2 separate regions of the Homo sapiens genome follow, and region 2 is linked to region 1. The links come from fine-mapping of genetic effects on gene expression. A gene starts in region 1. The other region holds a variant in brackets. All regions are shown on one strand. Distances are from middle to middle.

What was found. PIP is the estimated chance that this variant, and not a neighbour inherited with it, causes the effect.
Region 2: its variant is the best candidate, but not a certain one, in a credible set for the expression of ENHO in liver (GTEx, PIP 0.80).

Annotation. Positions count from the first base shown.
Region 1 is chr9:34,518,924-34,528,474 of GRCh38, forward strand. ENHO (energy homeostasis associated) reads right to left here and starts at 4,067. Exons shown (of 2, transcript NM_198573.3): 1 at 3,854-4,067; 2 at 2,120-2,933. The coding sequence starts at 2,772. The coding sequence ends at 2,542. DNAI1 (dynein axonemal intermediate chain 1) reads left to right here. Exons shown (of 20, transcript NM_012144.4): 20 at 1,735-2,061. The coding sequence ends at 1,833. RefSeq lists an enhancer at 2,811-3,363 and silencers at 3,993-4,102, 4,123-4,492.
Region 2 is chr9:34,538,377-34,547,927 of GRCh38, forward strand. No RefSeq gene overlaps it. Among named protein-coding and RNA genes, the nearest start is that of ENHO, 20 kb to the left of the region's middle. RefSeq lists an enhancer at 8,421-8,920 and a silencer at 8,516-8,595. The variant T/C (reference allele first, on the strand shown) is at 4,815.

The sequences.
Region 1 (9,551 bases):
AGGGTCAGACATGGGTGGGAGCCTGCCCTGCCCACTCTGATCCAGGGAGGTAAGCATCTCCCATAGTTTCAGTTCCCCTCAGAGAAGGGTCAGTCATGGCTGGGAGAGCTGGGCTGTGTGTATCTGGGGACCTACGTCTCTGAGGACCTGAGAAGGGACAGGTGGGGGCTGGTGGGTACTTGAGTGGATTAGAGGTTCCCGTGAAATTGCCATCTGACCCTATCAGCCAAGTGATTCATGCAAAACAAAATCCTCTGGGCATCCCTACTGCCCTTCCTCTGTGAGCTGCAGACTCCCTGCCCTTTCCAAATGGCTTCCCCACAGAGGTCTGGACCTCCCTGCCCAGGGAGCTCCCATGATGGGTGTCAAGAGCCCAAAGAGTCCAAGGCCAAAGACTGTCTTTCCCTAACTACAGGATAGATGGGAAACTGAAGCTCAGAAAGGCAAAGGCCTTGCCCAAAGTCATATAGGGAGTTAATGACAGAGCTGGAACTAAAACCAGGTCCCCTAACTCCCAGGGGATGGGGTGAAGCCAAGAAGAGAACCCAAGCTTAATTTAGGAAGGAGAGAGGGAAGAGAGAGAAAAAGAGCTTTTTTGTGCTCTGCCTGCAGAGGGTAGAGGTGAGCTAGGTAGTGGCAAAAAGGCACTGGGCTGCAAGCGGATAGGGGAGAAAATTTGGGAGCAGGTATGGGGTCACAGCAGGGGGAAATCTGAGCTCCACATGGTGACAGCAGCCAAAAAGGAGCCAGGGAAGGGCCTACTGGCCCTGCACTCACCCCTCCCCATCCCCTTTACAGCCCTGGCCAGACCAAGGTAAGGCTGGGGTAGGTGTCAGTGAGCAGTGGGCACAGGTGGCTGAGAGGATGGGGGCCCAGGAGCACAGCGAAGGCAGGAAATGGGGAAATGGCAACTGCCCAGCCTGCCCCAGCACAGCCCTCACCCCCCTGCCTGGACAGCAGGGAGGGTGGGACTGGTGCTGGTCTGCCAAGGAGTTCTCAGGACCTGTGGGTGACACACACTCCAGTGTCCAACTTATAATGGAAGGATTGGAGTGCTTTGCAGGTAGGGTGTTGGGTCATAAACTCAGGATCTGGTCTTCTAAAGGACAACCTCAGCCAACGACACCTGGAGTCACATGGACTATTCCCTCTGCCCTTATGGGTCTCTTGACACTCTTCCCAACCCTGGGTATGTCTGACACAGCAGGTCTCGCCCCAAATAGCACCCACTGCCAACCTGACCTGAAGGCATCAGGTGAGAGGACTAGGTGAGGTCCGGGCCCCTGAGGCTCTGTCCACAGCCCCTCCCTCCCCAAACACATACCCATTAGCTCCTTGATAGGTCTCGGCCAGGGACCTTCCCATGGTAAGGATGGTGCCAGCAGTCAGCCCCCCGCCTTCGCAGAGCTGGATTTCCCTGGCCTGGAAGGTTGTTCCCCTGAGGGTCAGGGAATGGATGCCTTTTCCCACTCCCACAAGCATCAAGACCCCATGTCCATCTGAGGTTCAAGCCAGAGCTGGACTCCTTTTTGCAAGCTGTCAGCTGAGCCCCTGTGTCACCTAACCCGAGTTGGGGAATGATCGTGTCAGGGAGAGGGGAGGCAGGGATCCAGAATTTACTGGGCAGGGGAGGGGTAGGGCACAGCTGGACAGGCTGGGCAGAGGAGGTGGTGCTGGGACCCAGAGAGGGGGGGCCCACCATTCCTCCCTCATGTATACTTTCCCTCTCCCCAGGAAAAGAAGGGGCAGGAGGTGCAGAAGGGTCCAGCTGTGGAGATTGCGAAACTGGACAAACTGCTGAACCTGGTGAGGGAAGTGAAAATCAAGACCTGAGGGGCTGGCCTCAGTCTCTGTCCCATCGCTTGAATACAGTACTCCTAGGGCTTGACCCTGGTACCCAGCCCAGCCTTAGCACCCAGCATGTGACCCCACTCCTGATCAGGTCCCAGCATCTTCCCTTCTTGTTCTGTTCCTTAAGGTCCCAGCACCTTACCCCAGGACTTGGTCTTCAACCACCATTACCCCTCTAACTTTGCACAAATAAACCTGTGTAGAAACCCACCCCACACCTTTAATTGTGCTACCACAGGGCCCTCAGGAAGAGAAGAAAACCTCAGGGTAGAGCCATAGTTCCATTTATTATCCAGCAAACACTGGGAGGACCAGGGGAGGGGCCCAGCCTGGACACCCTCCTATTATTGCCATGGGTTCCAGTTTGCTTCCCCAGCCTAGAGGGCCTAGAGGTGCTCAGCCTAGGGAAAGAGTGGACCCGGCCCCTGACCCTTGGCCCTTGGGATGGAGCATAGTCCAGATGGCCCTGGCTCTAGCACCAACTCATAAGCCCCCACCCCAGGCCCATCTCCTTAGGGCCACTGAGCTCCTATTGGAGCCAAGCTGGCTAGACTCTGGGCCGCTGGGTCCAGCTCCAAGCAGGCGGACTCTTGAGTTCTGGACCCCAGGCTGGCTGAACTCTGGGATCCTAATTCCAGGCTCTAGGTGAGGTGGACTTAGGTCCTGGGCTCCAGGCTAGGCCAGGGGCCTTCAGGGCTGCAGCAGGTAGCTGCCTTCATGGCTGGGCTTCTGGGGTGGTGGGGCCTTCTCAGGACAGGGGCCAGGGCTGGAGTTGGGACTGGATTCAGAGAGAGAGTCAACGTCGGCAGAGCGAGAATGGCAGGCCCAGCAGAGGATGACCCAGAGCAGCAGCAGCAAGAAGCCCACGAGACCGTTGCAGACGATGGCGATGAGGGCCCCCTGGGAGATGGCTGCCCCCATGACAGGCAGCACCCTCAGACCAGCACAGACAGTGGAGCTGCCTCAATGGTGAGGCCCATGCCGAGGCAGGACTCTGGTATGGCCGGCCTTCAGAGGAGGCTGTGCTGTCTGCACGCTCAGTGATTCCTGGGCAGTGGAGATGTCTACCTGCAGTCCTGAGCCTGTTGGGGGTATACAGTAAAGGAGAGGGTGGTGAGGAGGAAGGGTGGGGTGAGGCCTAGGAGGAGAGAGGTAGGGAAGAGAGCCTCCCTCCCACATTTCTGGCCTCCCTGGTGAAAGACCTTGGGTCCCAACAGGCTCGAATACCCCACAGAGCCATCACCCCCATCCACAGGCTTGGTTCTGGCCACCTGAATGAGTGTGTAGCCACCGTGGGGAAGCTGCAGTAGGCAGCCGTCATCTCATTCTCCTTAGACCTGGTGGGCATGCCCTGGTCCTGCCCACCAAGCTTGCAGCCCTCAAAAGCCCTCTGTTGGTGGGTGGGATCCAGGAAGCCCCCAGCCCAAAAGGATGGGGGTTGTAAGCAGCTCTGGTGTGGCCTGGGCGCCTCCTCTCTCCCAGGACTCCAGCCAGCCCGACCAGGAGACCTCCAGAGGCGCCAGCTTGCACAGAGGGAACTTTGTGGAGGCCCTGGCAGGCATGTGCAGGCTCTGTGCGTCCAGGGCTGTGTGCCTCTATGTGGGGCTGCCTCTCTGGGTCAGGTGTGTGTGTGTGTCTGGTGTCTCACTGTCCCTCCGTTGGATGTGTGCCTGTGCCTCTGCACACCCACCTCTGTGTGTGTGGCTGCCTCTCCGTGTGTCCCCATCTCTGAGTATGTCTCCTCTATGTCTCATTTCTCTACCAGTGTGTCTCTGTGTATCTCTGCATCAGTCTCTGTGTCTCTCTCTCTCTTCCAGGCTGTATCCCCCTCTGTTCCCATGGACGTGTCCCTATCCCCTTCTCCGTGGGGTCTTTTCGGTGGTTCCTGTGTCTCTGTCTTTGTGTTCGTCTCTCTCCGCGGCAGTGTGTCTCTGTCTCTTTATCTCCATCTTCGGGTCGCGTGTTCTTGGCCCCCGTGCCCGTGGCGGGAGGCCCTTCTTACCTGAGTTGAGCCTGGTGCGCGCCCGCGGGAGGGTCCGGGGCAGCGGGATGCTCGGCGCCGACTAAGGCTTGGGAGCCTGCGGGCGGGGGGCGGCGGGAGGTGGGAGACCAGCAGAGGCGACGTCCGCTCCCCCGGCCCTCCCCCTCGGCCGCGCAGCCTCCACCGGCCGCTCCCGCCGCGGCGCGACCGGGGCGGCCTCTGCCGCGGGCGGTCTGCGGTGAGCGGGCACCTCCTCCCCTTGGGGCCGCACCTCCTCCGCGGCCGCGGCGCTCGCTCGCTCGGCAGCGCTCGGGCGGCGGCGGCGGGAGCTGCGCGGTGTTCGGCTGGGCTCGGCTGCGTTCGGTTGGGCTCGGCTGGGCTCGGCTACGTTCGGCTGGGCTCGGCCGGGCTCGGCGGCCAGCAAAAACAGCGAAGAGCCTCGCCTCCTGGGAGGCCGGCGGCCTGCGGCCCGGGGGCGGAGCCATCCCAGCGCCGCTGCCGCCACTCAATTGGCTGGCCGAACCCCGGTTCCCGCACCATTGGTGGTGCGCTGAGGTGGGGACCAGCCCGCCTCTCGTGCCGGCGCGGGGCGGGAGGAGGGCCGAAGGAGTAGCTGGCCCTGGATCCTTCCCGGGAGAGGGGATGGGGTGGGGGCAAGGCCTAACCTCTGGTAGGGATTTCTTGCACCTTCTACACCTGGAAGGGTTGTACACCCCACATCCGAGAAAGGCCAAGGCCTCTGCATTTCCACATGTGAGGAAACCACCCCTCTGTATCTGGGAGAGGTCTCTTAAGTAAGTCATCCGGAGGAAGGCCCCGCGTCCCCACACCTGGCAGGAGACTGAATCTCCTCACCTAGGGAACCGCCTATAGTGCAGTCCCGCACTTCCCTCTGCCACCTGGGTGTGGACTCTGCATTCCCACTTTAGAGGGCCCCAGGTTCCCTGGCCCTAAGAGGTGTGAAAATCTCTGGCAACACAGGTTCTTTGGACACATTTACTGAGTTCCTACCCAGTGTTGGTCGCAGGCTTGCTGCCAGGCTGTTGGGGAGTCTGGGACAGAAATGGAGTGTCCTGAGCGATGGTTCTGCCCTGGCTGGAATAGGTGCAGGCGTGGTGGAAATCCTGCCTTGCCATCCTAAAAGCTCCCCTAAGAAGAAGATAGCTTGGACAGGAGCAGTGAGGTAGACCTTGTCCTCCCCGACCTTCACAGGCCAGTGATTGTCACCTATTCTGATCCGGCCGTCTTCTCATCCCGCTCTACATGCTCTCCTTGGAGGATCACATCCCTGAAGCTATATCATGAAGACTCCCAGTGCTCCCAAGTCTAGCCTTAACTTCTCTCTGGAATCCTAGACTCATATAACTAAGTGCCTACTGTAATCGGGGCAGTATTGATTCCTGGTTCACTTACTAACTTTGTGATCTTGAGCAAGTTACTAAATCTCTCTTAGCCTCAGCTTCCTCATCTGTAAAATGGTTGTAATGCTACCTCTCAGGGTTGTTATTCACTAATTTATAGCAGATCGATCACATCTCAGCAAATGCCAGCTGACACAACCCCCAGGACCATGTGACTAAGAGGCCCCTTCCCCCAATCCAATGCCATGAAATTCACATAAGACCCCTGTAAATCCAGATGCTATCTTGAAAGAAGAAAGGGAAGACTGAGTCATCCAAAGCTACCAAAGTACTTAGAGACTGTCTAAAATAAATTATTGGATCCTATAGAGTTTACCAGAGTGGATTACTTTTAGCTCCCCCCCACTGCCCATTACCCAGCAGGGTGAGGGCATTGTGAGAAAGATCAGCCTAGTTATAGGAAACAGAGGAGACTTAAATCATCGCACATCTGAGTGTAATGTGAGCGAATTTTGTGACCCAGCTGCAGGAGTTCAGATTTTATCCTGAAAACAGTGGGGAGCCACTGAAGAATTTTTGAGCAGAAGAGTAATGCGATCATATCCAGAAATTAGTAGGATGATTTGGGCTATGGTGTGGAATGGGGGCTTGAAAGCATTTGAGAGTGAAGGCAAGGATTAATAATAAGGGACTGAAATGATGGAAGGAAAAAGTTGTAGAGAGAAAAGGAGAGCATTGAGGATATTTGGGAGCTGCTGCTGGTGGGACTTAGAGAACTAGAGGATAGGGGAGGTAAGCAGGAAGGAAAAGTCTGGGATGACTCCCGGGTTAGTGACGAGGGATGCTGTGATGCCATTTACTGAATACACAGGTTCAGGAGAGAGGTCCAGGCTAAAGATAATATTTTGTGAGTTGTCAGCAAAAGAATGGTAGTTAAATGAGAAAAATAGATGAGCTCACCCAGGGAGAGAGATAACTAGTTTAAGCAAAAAGATAAATTTATAATCAGATACGGAAACCTAAGGGCAAGGATGACTCAGGAACAACTGAAACTAAGAGATCAAAAGCCACCCAGAAGAGTTCTCTCTCTACCTCTCAACTCTGTTACTTTCTGCCTGCCTCCATTTCCCTCCCCTGTCCCAAGTCCCTGTCCTCCCCATCCCCAGACTGACTTCCAATATGCTTCTAGACCACATGGTAAAAAACGGGACTTCAGACAATTCTAAAGTTTTAAAGCTTGTTGTGTAGGCATCCAAAGAGACTGGCTGCTGCCAGCTCCTCCTCATCCTCCTCATCCTCCTCCTTTCTTTTTTTTTTTTTTTTTTGGTTTGCAAAATTTTCAGGAAATATTTTGATTCAACTTAGATGCTTACCTTTGGACTAATCAATGGTGGTCAAGGGATGAAGATCAAATTGATTAACATGATAACGCTATGGGCAGTGGGGAGGTGGAGGTGGTGGTTTCCAGGGGAAGCAGCATCATAAAGAAGCAAAATGGCAGGTGTCCATACAGTCCACCCTTTGTTTGCCCAACACATATACATCATTTCCTATTATATGATTCCAAAAAGGCCCTCATCTACATAATCCAATCATCCCACGATACAAATGCCAATAAATTTGCCTCCTTTCCAGTGAAGAACAATTCAGTGACACATCCAGCTGCTGCTTCTGGAGATCATAGCACAGATCAGGACCACTGTTCTTCAGATATAGGTTCTCCAGGTAATGTCCCTTCATGCTCTAGTGAGGTCTCCATGAGGTATGAAATGTGGCTTCTAATAATCCCACTACCTTTTAACTGCCTTTGAACTATCTTTAAACTACTCCCCCTATGAAAAAGTCCTGATATGTAGAGATACAAGAAATAGAGAATAAAATGGGGTGAAAAGGAAGCACTGTGCATTGGTCACTAATCCAGAACATCATCTACTGTAGATGTTTTTGGCCATGAGTAATAATGAAATGATAGGACTAGCAAATCTCATGGCATCTGTTTGTTGACTTGCTCCTTTGGCTGTGGAGTTCCTTGGTCGGCCAATCTGGCTGCCTTAATTTTTGCCCACAAGGTAGAGATCCCTTATCCAGTGTTTTGAGAGGGTCATTATGGAGGATTTCTCTGTGCGGCACTGTACTGATTAGCACTACACCTTCTGGTGGTGTTTTACAGATTATCCTGGGATTGAACAACCACAGAGCTCTACACTTAGGAGGATTGGATAAGGGCTTTTCCCTCAATAGATTATGCAATTATTTTAAAACCATAATCAGCTGCCTATCAATTTCATTTGGAGAAATTCCATCTGCTAATAACATGTTTGATTGGTTCTAAGGTGTACTTTTTTCCCCCAGTTTAAACAAATATGTAATCAGAATGTGTCTTACAATTAATAGCATGTAATCATTTTTTCACCTCTTATTTTTTTTTCTTTTTTCTTTTTTTTATTATTATACTTTAAGTTTTAGGGTACATGTGCACAATGTGCAGGTTTGTTACACATGTATACATGTGCCATGTTGGTGTGCTGCACCCATTAACTTGTCATTTACATTAGGTATGTCTCCTAATGCTATCCCTCCCCCCTCCCCCCACCCCACAACAGGCCCCGGTGTGTGATGTTCCCCTTCCTGTGTCCAAGTGTTCTCATTGTTCAGTTCCCACCTATGAGTGAGAACATGTGGTCTTTGGTTTTTTGTTCTTGCGATAGTTTGCTGAGAATGATGGTTTCCAGCTTCATCCATGTCCCTACAAAGGACATGAACTCATCATTTTTTATGGCTGCATAGTATTCCATGGTGTATATGTGCCACATTTGCTTAATCCAGTCTATCATTGTTGGACATTTGGGTTGGTTCCAGGTCTTTGCTATTGTGAATAGTGCCACAATAAACATACGTGTGCATGTGTCTTTATAGCAGCATGATTTATAATCCTTTGGGTATATACCCAGTAATGGGATGGCTGGGTCAAATGGTATTTCTAGTTCTAGATCCCTGAGGAATCACCACACTGTCTTCCACAATGGTTGAACCAGTTTCCAGTCCCACCAACAGTGTAAAAGTGTTCCTATTTCTCCACATCCTCTCCAGCACCTGTTGTTTCCTGACTTTTTAATGATCGCCATTCTAACTGGTGTGAGATGGTATCTCATTGTGGTTTTGATTTGCATTTCTCTGATGGCCAGTGATGATGAGCATTTTCTCATGTGTCTGTTGGCTGCATAAATGTCTTCTTTTGAGAAGTGTCTGTTCATATCCTTCACCCACTTGTTGAGGGGGTTTTTTCTTGTAAATTTGTTTGAGTTCTTTGTTGATTCTGGATATTAGCCCTTTGTCAGAGGAGTAGATTGCAAAAATTTTATCCCATTCTATAGGTTGCCTGTTCACTCTGATGTTAGTTTCTTTTGCTGTGCAGAAGCTCTTTAGTTTAGTTAGATCCCATTTGTCAATTTTGGCTTTTGTGGCCATTGCTTTTGGTGTTTTAGACATGAAGTCCTTACCCATGCCTATGTCCTGAATGGTATTGCCTAGGTTTTCTTCTAGGGTTTTTATGGTTTTAGGTCTAACATTTAAGTCTTTAATCCATCTTGAATTAATTTTTGTATAAGGTGTAAGGAAGGGATCCAGTTTCAGCTTTCTACATATGGCTAGCCAGTTTTCCTAGCACCATTGGTTAAATAGGGAATCCTTTCCCCATTTCTTGTTTTTGTCAGGTTTGTCAAAGATCAGATAGTTGTAGATGTATGGTATTATTTCTGAGGGCTCTGTTCTGTTCCATTGGTCTATATCTCTGTTTTGGTACCAGTACCATGCTGTTTTGGTTACTGTAGCCTTGTAGTATAGTTTGAAGTCAGGTAGCGTGATGCCTCCAGCTTTGTTCTTTTGGCTTAGGATTGACTTGGCAATGCGGGCTCTTTTTGGTTCCATATGAACTTTAAAGTAGTTTTTTCCAATTCTGTGAAGAAAGTCATTGGTAGCTTGATGGGGATGGCATTGAATCTATAAATTACCTTGGGCAGTATGGCCATTTTCACAATATTGATTCTTCCTATCCATGAGCATGGAATGTTCTTCCATTTGTTTGTATCCTCTTTTATTTCGTTGAGCAGTGGTTTGTAGTTCTCCTTGAAGAGGTCCTTCACATCCCTTGTAAGTTGGATTCCTAGGTATTTTATTCTCTTTGAAGATATTGTGAATGGGAGTTCACTCATGATTTGGCTCTCTGCCTGTCTGTTATTGGTGTATAAGAATGCTTGTGATTTTTGCACATTGATTTTGTATCCTGAGACTTTGCTGAAGTTGCTTATCAGCTTAAGGAGATTTTGGGCTGAGACGATGGGGTTTTCTAGATATACAAT
Region 2 (9,551 bases), 19 kb after region 1:
TCAGATTTTCCACTGAAGGAAACTGAGCATTAAAGAGATTAATCAGGCTGGGCGCCATGGCTCAGGCCTGTAATGCTAGCACTTTGGGAGGCCGAGGTGGGCGGATTGCCTGAGCTCAGGAGTTTGAGACCATCCTGGGCTACATGATGAAACCTCGTCTCTACTAAAAATACAAAAAATTAGCTGGGGGTGGTGGCGCACGCCTGTAATCCCAGCTACTTGGGAAGCTGAGGCACGAGAATTACTTCAAACCAGGAAGTGGAGGTTGCCGTGAGCCAAGATTGCACCATTGCACTCCAGCCTGGGTGACAGAGCGAGAAACTGAAAAAAAAAAAAAAAAAAAAAAGAGATTAATAAACTTGTAAATTTGTCCCAAGGTCAACAGGAGCCTAGGTTTGTCTGACCCCAGAGTCATTCTCTTAACTGCTATGCTGATTCAGTGTCCTCTCCCAAGAGGTCTTACACTTGACATGTCTGCATCTGAACTCATCTGTCCATTGCTTCGTATATGACTATAGGCAAGTGAGTGAATGTCTGAGCCATAGTTGTTCCACTTGCCCAAAGCCTGTCCTCCTCCCATGCTGTTTCAATAAACAGTCCTGCTGCCTCCCAGTCAACAGGAGCTGTACAAGACTCTTCCTTTTCCCTTCCCTCCCAACCACTCACTCATCAAGACATGGCGACTGTGTGCTCTAAAAGCCCCATTCTCCCTGCCCTGGGCCTAGTCCTCTCCTGTCCGGACACAGCAAGAGCTGGCTCTCAGGCCTTTCCTATCATTCAAAGAACCTTCCTTAGGCCTGCTCATTTTCTCAGCCACCATGGGTCCCACATTCTCTTCCCGCCTAGCCCTACTCTGCACAGCCCCCAGAGCAGTCTTTCCAACACACAAAGCTCACCAGGTCTCTCCAGCTCCCTGAACCCCTGATTCTGAGCAAAAGCTCCTGAACCTCAGCCTGGCTTTCAAAGCACAGACTGTGTGGTTCCACCTCCCCTGTAGCCACAGCGCCCACCCAACCCTCTCCTGAGCTCAGGAGCACCTGCACCATTGCGGGTCTTCCTGCCCATCCTTCCTCCCGCTCTGCCCTGCATGGGCAGGGGATGTCCTCTGCCTCTCCACAGTCTCAGCCCCACTCCCCATATGTGTTTTTCTAGTGACACTGCCCAGTGGTAGGCGTGCTAAGGTGTGCAAAATCAGTAATGTCTATTTTATAAAAACTATATGGTTGTGCAGTAACGTGAATGTGTTTAATGCCATAGAACTGCACACATAATAATGGTTAAAATGGTGGCTGGGCATGGTGGCTCACACCTGTAATCCCAGCACTTTTGGAGGCCGAGGCAAGAGGATTGCTTGAGCCCAGGAGTTTGAGACCAGCCTAGGCAACACAGGGAGACCCCATCTCTACAGAAAATTTAAAAATCAGCCGGACATGGTGGTGCATGCCTGTTGGGGACCAGCCTCAACACCACCCGTAGGGTACCTGAAGTCTGGTGGCGACAAAGGATTGAGAAGAGACAAGAGTTGAAAGGTGGGGAGCCCCGGGGGCCAGCTGCAAAATGGAGGCTGCAAAAGGCTCAGTGCTCTGGTCTCCACACTGTTGAGTACGATCACTTAGATCTGAGAAGCAGATGTTCAGGGCGAAACAGTGAAAGGGAGGCTATGCGTCATAGACGTAATCTATAGTAATAGCGGTTTAAATGAATCTCCTTTGTGCTCAAACAGCATATCTTTAACTTATCAGAGAGTAGCTAGTGGGAGTGGCTTAACTAGGAGCCTGCACATCTGTTCACCTTCCAGTGTTTCAAAGGAGTGTCTTTCTCCTTGAACAGTGTTTACAAATAAGAGAGTGTGTCTTGCTCTGAGCAGGGCAACATGATGGCAATTAGGAGGCTTTCCTTCTGAGAGGCCTTTTGTGGCTTTCCACAACTTATTGTCCCATATTTTTATGGCTAGTCTATGCAGGCACCCCATAAGCCTTTTTCCCAACACATGCCTGTAGTCCCAGCTACTCAGGAGGCTGAGGTGGGAGGATTGCTTGAGTCCAGGAGGTTGAGGCTGCAGTGAGCCATGATTGCACCACTGCACTCCATCCTGGGCAACAGAGCGAGGCCCTGTCTCAAAAAAAAAAAAAGGGGGTTAAAATGGTAAAACAAAACTAAATATAAATGCCTCCCTCAGGGTTCTAGTCCCTGGAGCGAGTAGATAGGTCATGATTGGGCCCTCTCCTCACCCCATCTTCCCCAGCTTACAGAGGGCCTGGGTATTTTATGCTGTGATCCCCATGGGCTCTGCTGAGATGCCCCTGTTGGGAGATCAATGTCCAGGAGCCTCCCTTCCTAAGCCCACCCTGCTCCCACTCCTGGGGTACAATTAGGGAGTATTAGTGGGTCCCCCCTGCCCATGCAACCACAGACTCAGTCTTTTAGTGTGTGTGTCGGGGGGTCTGGATTGCTTCACCTCCTCTCCCTTCGCCTTAGCATAGTCCTCTCAAGAAGTTTAGGTTTCCAGAAGGTCAGGGTCAGGAAGATGGCTGTGGTTGACTTCAGCTTTGGGCCTGAGATCCTCCCTACAAGAGACAAGGAGAAAAAAAAAAAAAGCCTGACCAGACCTTCTGCACGAGACAGGAAAGGGAAGATTGTGACTGGAGCAAAACTCAGTTAACATCCTTGTGAGTCATCCTGGCACACCAGCTCCTGCAGCAGGCAGTCCAGCCCCTTGAGGGCAGAAATCAAAAGGTGTCCTTCCCTGCATATGCAGACACACACTGACAAACATGCATACATACAACCCACAAAGCAGAGACACATACATACAAGCAAAGATGTATGTACAGACAAGCCTACCCACAGACACAGGCCTGCACATAAAAACACATCCACACAGAAACACACATGATTACACCAACTACACACATACCACATGGCCGGGAAAACACATGAAGAGATTCACAGGCCTCCATCTCTCCCTTTCTTTCACACACACACACACACACACGCAAAGATAAGCCTACCCAGAGTCACTAGTAGGTGTCAACAAATGTGTTCTAGACCAATGACTAAAGGAAGAAGTCAGAGAAGTCAGAGATAGACACAGATCAGTTTTCTAGAGATTGGAAGAATGTGTGTATATGGAGGAGGACAGACTGGTGGGAGAGAAAGCCAGGTAAACATAGGGAAGGGAGAGATCCTAGCGCCAAGAAAGGAGGGTCTTGGGTAATTATCAGGCGCCAACCTCTCGCCCAGCCCTCCTTGATTCATCTATGCATTAACAGTTACTGAGCTGAGTCCTCTGTTGGGCCCCAGGCCTATCCTCACATATGCACAGCCGGGGAGGAAGAGAGACCTGTCCATGAGGAACTATCACACAGACTGGCATGTGCCACGTTGGGGGATGCACAGCCCAGCCCCACTCTGGGCAGCAGTGGAGGGCAGATGTCAGGGAAACGTGAGTGAAATGTTGAACATGTAGGAGTTGGCTGGATGAAGGGGATGGATGGGGAGGTCACCTTGGGCCAAGGAAACAGGTGTAAACATTCGTTTCCTTTTGCTGCTGTAACAAATTACCATAAATGTAGTGGCTTCAATACAAAAATTAGCCGGGCACCTGTAGTCCCAGCTACTTGGGAGGCTGAGTCAGGAGAATCGCTTGAACCTGGGAGGCGGAGGTTGCAGTGAGCTGAGATCGTGCCACTGCACTCCAGCCAGGGTGACAGAGAGAGACTCAGTCTCAAAAACGAAAACAGAAAAACAAAAAACTACACAGATTTATTTGCTTACAATTGACTGTTCAGAGGTCTGAAATCAGTTTTTGTGGGCTAAAGTCAATGTGTTGGCAGAGCTGGTTCCTTCTGTAGGCTCCAAGAGGAGAATGCATTTCCTTGCCTTTTCAGTATCTAATGGCTGCCTGCATTCCTTGGCTTGTGGACCAGTACTCCATCCTCAAAGCACAGCACTCCAGTCTCTGCTTCCATCATTCCACTGCTGTCTTCCCTGACTCCTCCTGCCTCCCTCTCTCCTGTTGGAATCATTGCGATTATATCACCACACCTCAGATAATCCAGGATAGTCTTCTCAAGATCCTTGACCACATCTGCAAAGTCTCTTTTGCCATATAAGGTAACATTCACAGGTTCTGGGAATTAGGATGTGGACATCTTGGGGGCCATTATTCAGCCTACCACGAGGGGAGTGGCATATTATCTCACAGTCTTTAAAATGCCCTCCAATTTTGTTATTACCAGGCTGAAGATAAGGAATTGGAGGCTCATAGAAGTTAAGTGATTTGCCTTAGACAGGCAGACAGGTAGATAAATGATAAATGTTTTCTAAAATAGACAAAAGAATACAAAGAAAAATGCAACAAAGCACTCAAAACCTCACCACCCAGAAATGATCAGTATTACGTTTTGTAACCATATACATAATACATAAAATTGAGGAGAGAGGTTAGAGAGAGAGCCAGTCAGGTAGAAAAAATATCTAAGAATGGGACTGTTCTCATAGTCCTAATGGGATATACTATAGAAACTATTTTTTTAGGCCAGGTGCAGTGGCTCACGACTGTAATCCCAGCACTTTGGGAGGCCGAGGCGGGCGGATCACGAGGTCAGGAGATCGAGACCATCCTGGCTAACACGGTGAAACCCTGTCTCTACTAAAAATACAAAAAAATTAGCCGGGCGCGATGGCGGGCACCTGTTGTCCCAGCTACTCGGGAGGATGAGGCAGGAGAATGGCATGAACCCAGGAGGCGGAGCTTGCAGTGAGCCGAGATCACGCCACTGCACTCCAGCCTGGGCGACAGAGTGAGACTC[T/C]GTCTCAAAAAAAAAAAAAAAGAAAAAGAAACTATTTTTTTAACCAAAAGTAGAAAATGTACGTTTACTTGAGTTTAATAGAGAAAAAAAGAAACTGAAGCGAAAATGGAATAGCTGAAATATTTCTTCACCTTAAAAGAGTAGTCATTCCTAAAAGACCTCTCTCAAGAGCCATTTCAATTAAGAGATTGGGCCAGGCGCAGTGGCTCACGCCTGTAATCCCAACACTTTAGGAGACCTAGGCAGCAGGATCACTTGAGCCCAGGAGTTCGAGACCAGTCTGGGCAACATGGAGAGACCCTGTCTTTACAAAAATTTAAAAATTAGCCAGGCATGGTGGCACATGCCTGTGGTCCCAGCTACTCGAAGGCTGAGGTGGAAGGATTGCTTGAGACCAGGAGGTCGAGGCTGCAGTGAGCTGTGATAGCACCATGTCACTCCAGCCAGAACAACAGAGCAAGACCCTGCCTCAAAAAAAAAAAAAAAAAAAAAAAAAGAAAAGAAAAGGAGGTTGGAGTAGGATTTTACCATTATATTCTAGTTTTATCCCTTTATTGACTTAGCTATGAACGAAGATGTGATTAGTACTTCTGCTTTCCTTGCTACCTCACCTCTCCATTCCAGACTGTGCATATAACTTTCGACTCCCCTGACATTACTAATAGCCCACTGTTGACGAGAAGCCTTATTAATAACATAAACAATTGATTTGCACATATTTTTTATGTTATATATATTATATACTGTATTCTTAAAGCTAGAGAAAAGAAAATATTAAGAAAATGATAAGGAAGAAATAATTTATTAATATTTACTATTCATTAAGTGGAAGTGGATCATCATAAAGGTCTTCATCCTCGTCTTCATGTTGAGGAGGCTGAGGAGGAGGAGGAAAAGGAGGGGTTGGTCTTGCTGCCTCAGGGGTGGCAGAGGCAGAAGAGGGAGAGGAAGGCAGGAGAGGCAGGCACTCTTGGTGTAACTTTTATTGATTTTACTTAATCTGTGAATAAGTGGACCTGCACAGTTCAAACTCGTGTTGTTCAAAGGTCAACTGTATTTACAGTGTTTTGCAACGAAAATTCCCACAGTGTCATCTTCGCTGAAATTGAATTAAGGTTAATTCCTACGTGGAATTAATGTCCCCACCAGTTCTTTACCATGAATTTCCCTTCCTCAGCTCCTGACCTTGACTAATCTCTTGGCTGAATGGATTTTGTCTTTTCTGGAAAGGTTCATGAGTACACCATCCCCCAAATTTATGATTGAGATCACCCACTCTGTTGGTTACGGTTTAGGGTGACACTTTTTCCCCTCAGAACTCTGTAGATATTGCTTCATTGTCTTCACTTGTCAAATGCTACCTTGGAGAAATCTGAGACCAGACTGAATATCCCCCCTTGTAAATAAATGACTTGCTTCTTCTGTCTAGGTGCCTTAAGTATTCTTACTTTAGCCCCAAAGTTTGGTAACTAAACCAATGTATCTTTTTTCTTTTTTAGACGGAAGGGTCTCACTATGTTGCCCAGGCTGGCCTCAAACTCCTGTGCTCAAGTGATCCTCCCGCCTAAGTCTCCCAAAGTGGTGGCATTACAGATGTGAGCCACCTCACCCAGCCAAATCAATGTGTCTTAATATCAATTACTCTGTGTCAACTTTTCTGGTATACAGTATGCCCCTTTCAATCTGAATATTCAGTTCTTTCATTTCAGGGGAAGATTTCTGTATTTTGTACCTTAATATCATTTTAAGTTCCATTTTTGGAACCCCTACTTTAGGGCTGTTAATAGTTGAGCTTATGGTAGCTTGTCTTTGTCCTATTACCTTCTCTCCAATTGCTTTAGTAGCTTTATCTTTTCCCACGACATTTACTCTTAATATCTCAAGCCTTTCCTATTACTTTGATTTTTAACCACTATTTAATGGTTAAAGCCTATTAATATCTATTATATTAATATTGATTGTTTCTCTGTTTCTAGTTTATTACATCTTTAAAAATAAGATTTCAGTCCTCTTTTACTTGCTTCTCTAATATCCCTTTCATCTAATTCATTGTTTTATCATCTTGCCTGAGTTCTTTGTTCTCCTGATTTCATGCTATTAAAAAGGCCTTCTATAAAAGGAAAGATTTGCCAGGACTCTGCTTTTATTCCTTTGGGTGTGTTTTCTTCTAGATCGGGGTCTTCATCGGTTGTTGTTTTCTTTTCATCATCTTTCTTGCTCCCTTCCTTCTTTCTCTCCCTCCTCCTTTCCTTTCTTCCATCGTCTCTCCTTCCTGCCTCCATTTTGACCGTGGTCTTGGTGTCTAAAGGCCATGCCATTTCCTTTCCTCTTACTCCTCTCTGCCATGGCCCATGTTTAGCCGACCTCTCCTTGCCCTGGTGTGCAGGCCCTGGAGCCCCTTCCCATCTTGTCTGGGCCCATTTGTCTCCCCTGGAGCCTATGGTTTGCACGCTGGCTGTTGCTTTCAAACTGTGCCCACCTCTGCCCCCGTGACGTCTATGGCCTGAGGGTGCCTGGCTAGGGCTGCCTGCTGCCCTTGATGGGGCCTAAGTGCTGTCCCTCCTCTGAGGCCCTGTTAGACATCTTGTTCCAACTGGTGGGCGGGGCATAACCCATTCCTGTAGGCACTGGTTTGTCCCCGCCAACCCCTGTCCCATCCCCTGGAAGACACCAAGCCATGGCAGCTCTCCTTGCTTCTACTGAGGTCTCATGGAGAAACACAAGGTCTTCTCCTTACAAAGGCTTTTTCCCAGACTTTTCCTAAGCCTGCCTACGCACCCAGTAGTCCACTTCTCTTAGATGACAGGATATTGTGTTTCATGGACTCACCTTTTTGGGAATGGGGTTAGGAGACATACTACTCACTCACTGCACCAGAATCTTCTGTTGTTTCTTTGCATGTCACATTTTAAGGTTTATAAAAAGGATTTCCTTGTTTGCTTGGACTTAGTGAGTTTGTAGTAGCGTTGTTGTTTTTGTTTGTTTTGGCTTGTGTTCATTTTATTAGAGGGAGGTGGGGTGGGGGGCTTCTGTGACGGTGTTACTTTGTCTCATTAACTCAGTGGTCCCCACCTTGCTTTGTCCATACCTCTCCCCTTGGACCGGCCCCTCTGGCAGCCCCAGCCCCCAGCACTTTCAAGTTCCTGGGATGAGACAAGGGCCCATAGAATTAGGCCTCAGCGCACAGTGGGTTTCAGTCCAAGGAAGAGAGGGAATAAGCAGGAAGCATTTCATGGAGACAGAGTCAGAGGGAACTCAAATGCTTCTCAGGAGGGCATCTGGGCAGAAACACAGCATGAACCAAGGCATGGATGTAGGAGAGGATGGGAACAATTACTGGGGAGCAGGAGGAGTCCAGCTGGAGGAGTGCCAGCTGGAGAAGCCAGGGAGAGGCTGGAGTGGTGGGCAGGCAGGGTCCAGGCAGGGGCTGCCCTTGCTATGACCAAAGCACTTAGCTCTTGGGTCTGGAATCTCAGGGATACTAATGGTGGGCGGGGCAGGTGTAGTAGGGAAGCCTGGTTCCCATTTCTCCTCCCCATCCTCAGCCCCTCCCAGAGACCTTCCTCTGAGTGCTACTCTCCCAGTGCCCCCTTGTCCTGGTAATGCCCAAGGTGTTCCTGCTGTCGTCCTGAGAGCCGCAGGTAAAGCCTCAGCCATGGCCACACCAGGCACACGCCATCACACACGAATGTAGCACATATGCATCCCTGGTCACCTAGCCACAGTAAAACAAACATGGTGCACAGCTGCATACCATCACTGCCATTTGCACGTGACGGCTCAGTGACACATGCTGTTGTGGGCATACTTTGCACACAGCCCCACAGTCCGGCTCCTTCTCTGGGTCGGTTGCTTCTGAATTTCCTGAGAACCTGTCCTGCCCCCTGGTGGCCATTCCCCAAGCCACTGCCCCTCTGGAAGGACCCCTTCTACCTCCTTCTTGCCTTCTGGCCTAGAACAGGCTCTTCCCTCAAACTGGAACTATGAGACCAGGCCCCTCAGACATCCTCCAGACCAGTCTCCCCCATCGGACATCCTCCAGACCAGCCTCCCCCCATCAGACATCCTCCAGACCAGCCTCCTTGCTCAGACGTCCTCCAGACCACCCTCCCCCCTCAGAAGTCCTTCAGACCAGCCTCCCCACTCAGACTGGTGCTGTCAGGCAAGGCCTTCCCAAACAGGGTGATCGACGTCCCAGTTTGCCTGGGACTGAGGGGTTTCCAGAGACTTGAGATATTCAGTGCTAAAACTGGGAAAGTTCAGGCAGACTAGAACTAGTTGGCGGTTCTAGTCTTTGGATCCATGTGCCTTCAGCTCAGTCTCCCCTCAGACTGGACCCACCAGACCAGGCCCTTTCAGACACCCCTGGGTCAGCTTACCCCTCAGGCTGGCCCTTTCAAACGAAAGCTCTTCTGATGCGTGTCCCAGACCCGCTCTGGCTCAGGCTCACCCTGTCGCGTGGGCCCTCTCAGACCCACTCACCCTCAGATTGGCTTTCCCATCAGAGTGGCACTGTCAGGTCCCTTCCAGCCTCTCCCCAAACTGGCTTCATCTGATGCCCTTCCTCAGACCTCCTTCCTCTCCCCCTCCTCTGAGAAGAGGCAAGGTAGGGAGATTACATTCCAATCACTCCTGCCCCCAGGACCTTAGCCCTGCATCTCCAGGCAGGCACCGCCTTCCCAGGGTCCTGTGGCTCTGGGCTGTGGGCCTCAGGACCTGAAGACAGGCAGGTGCAGG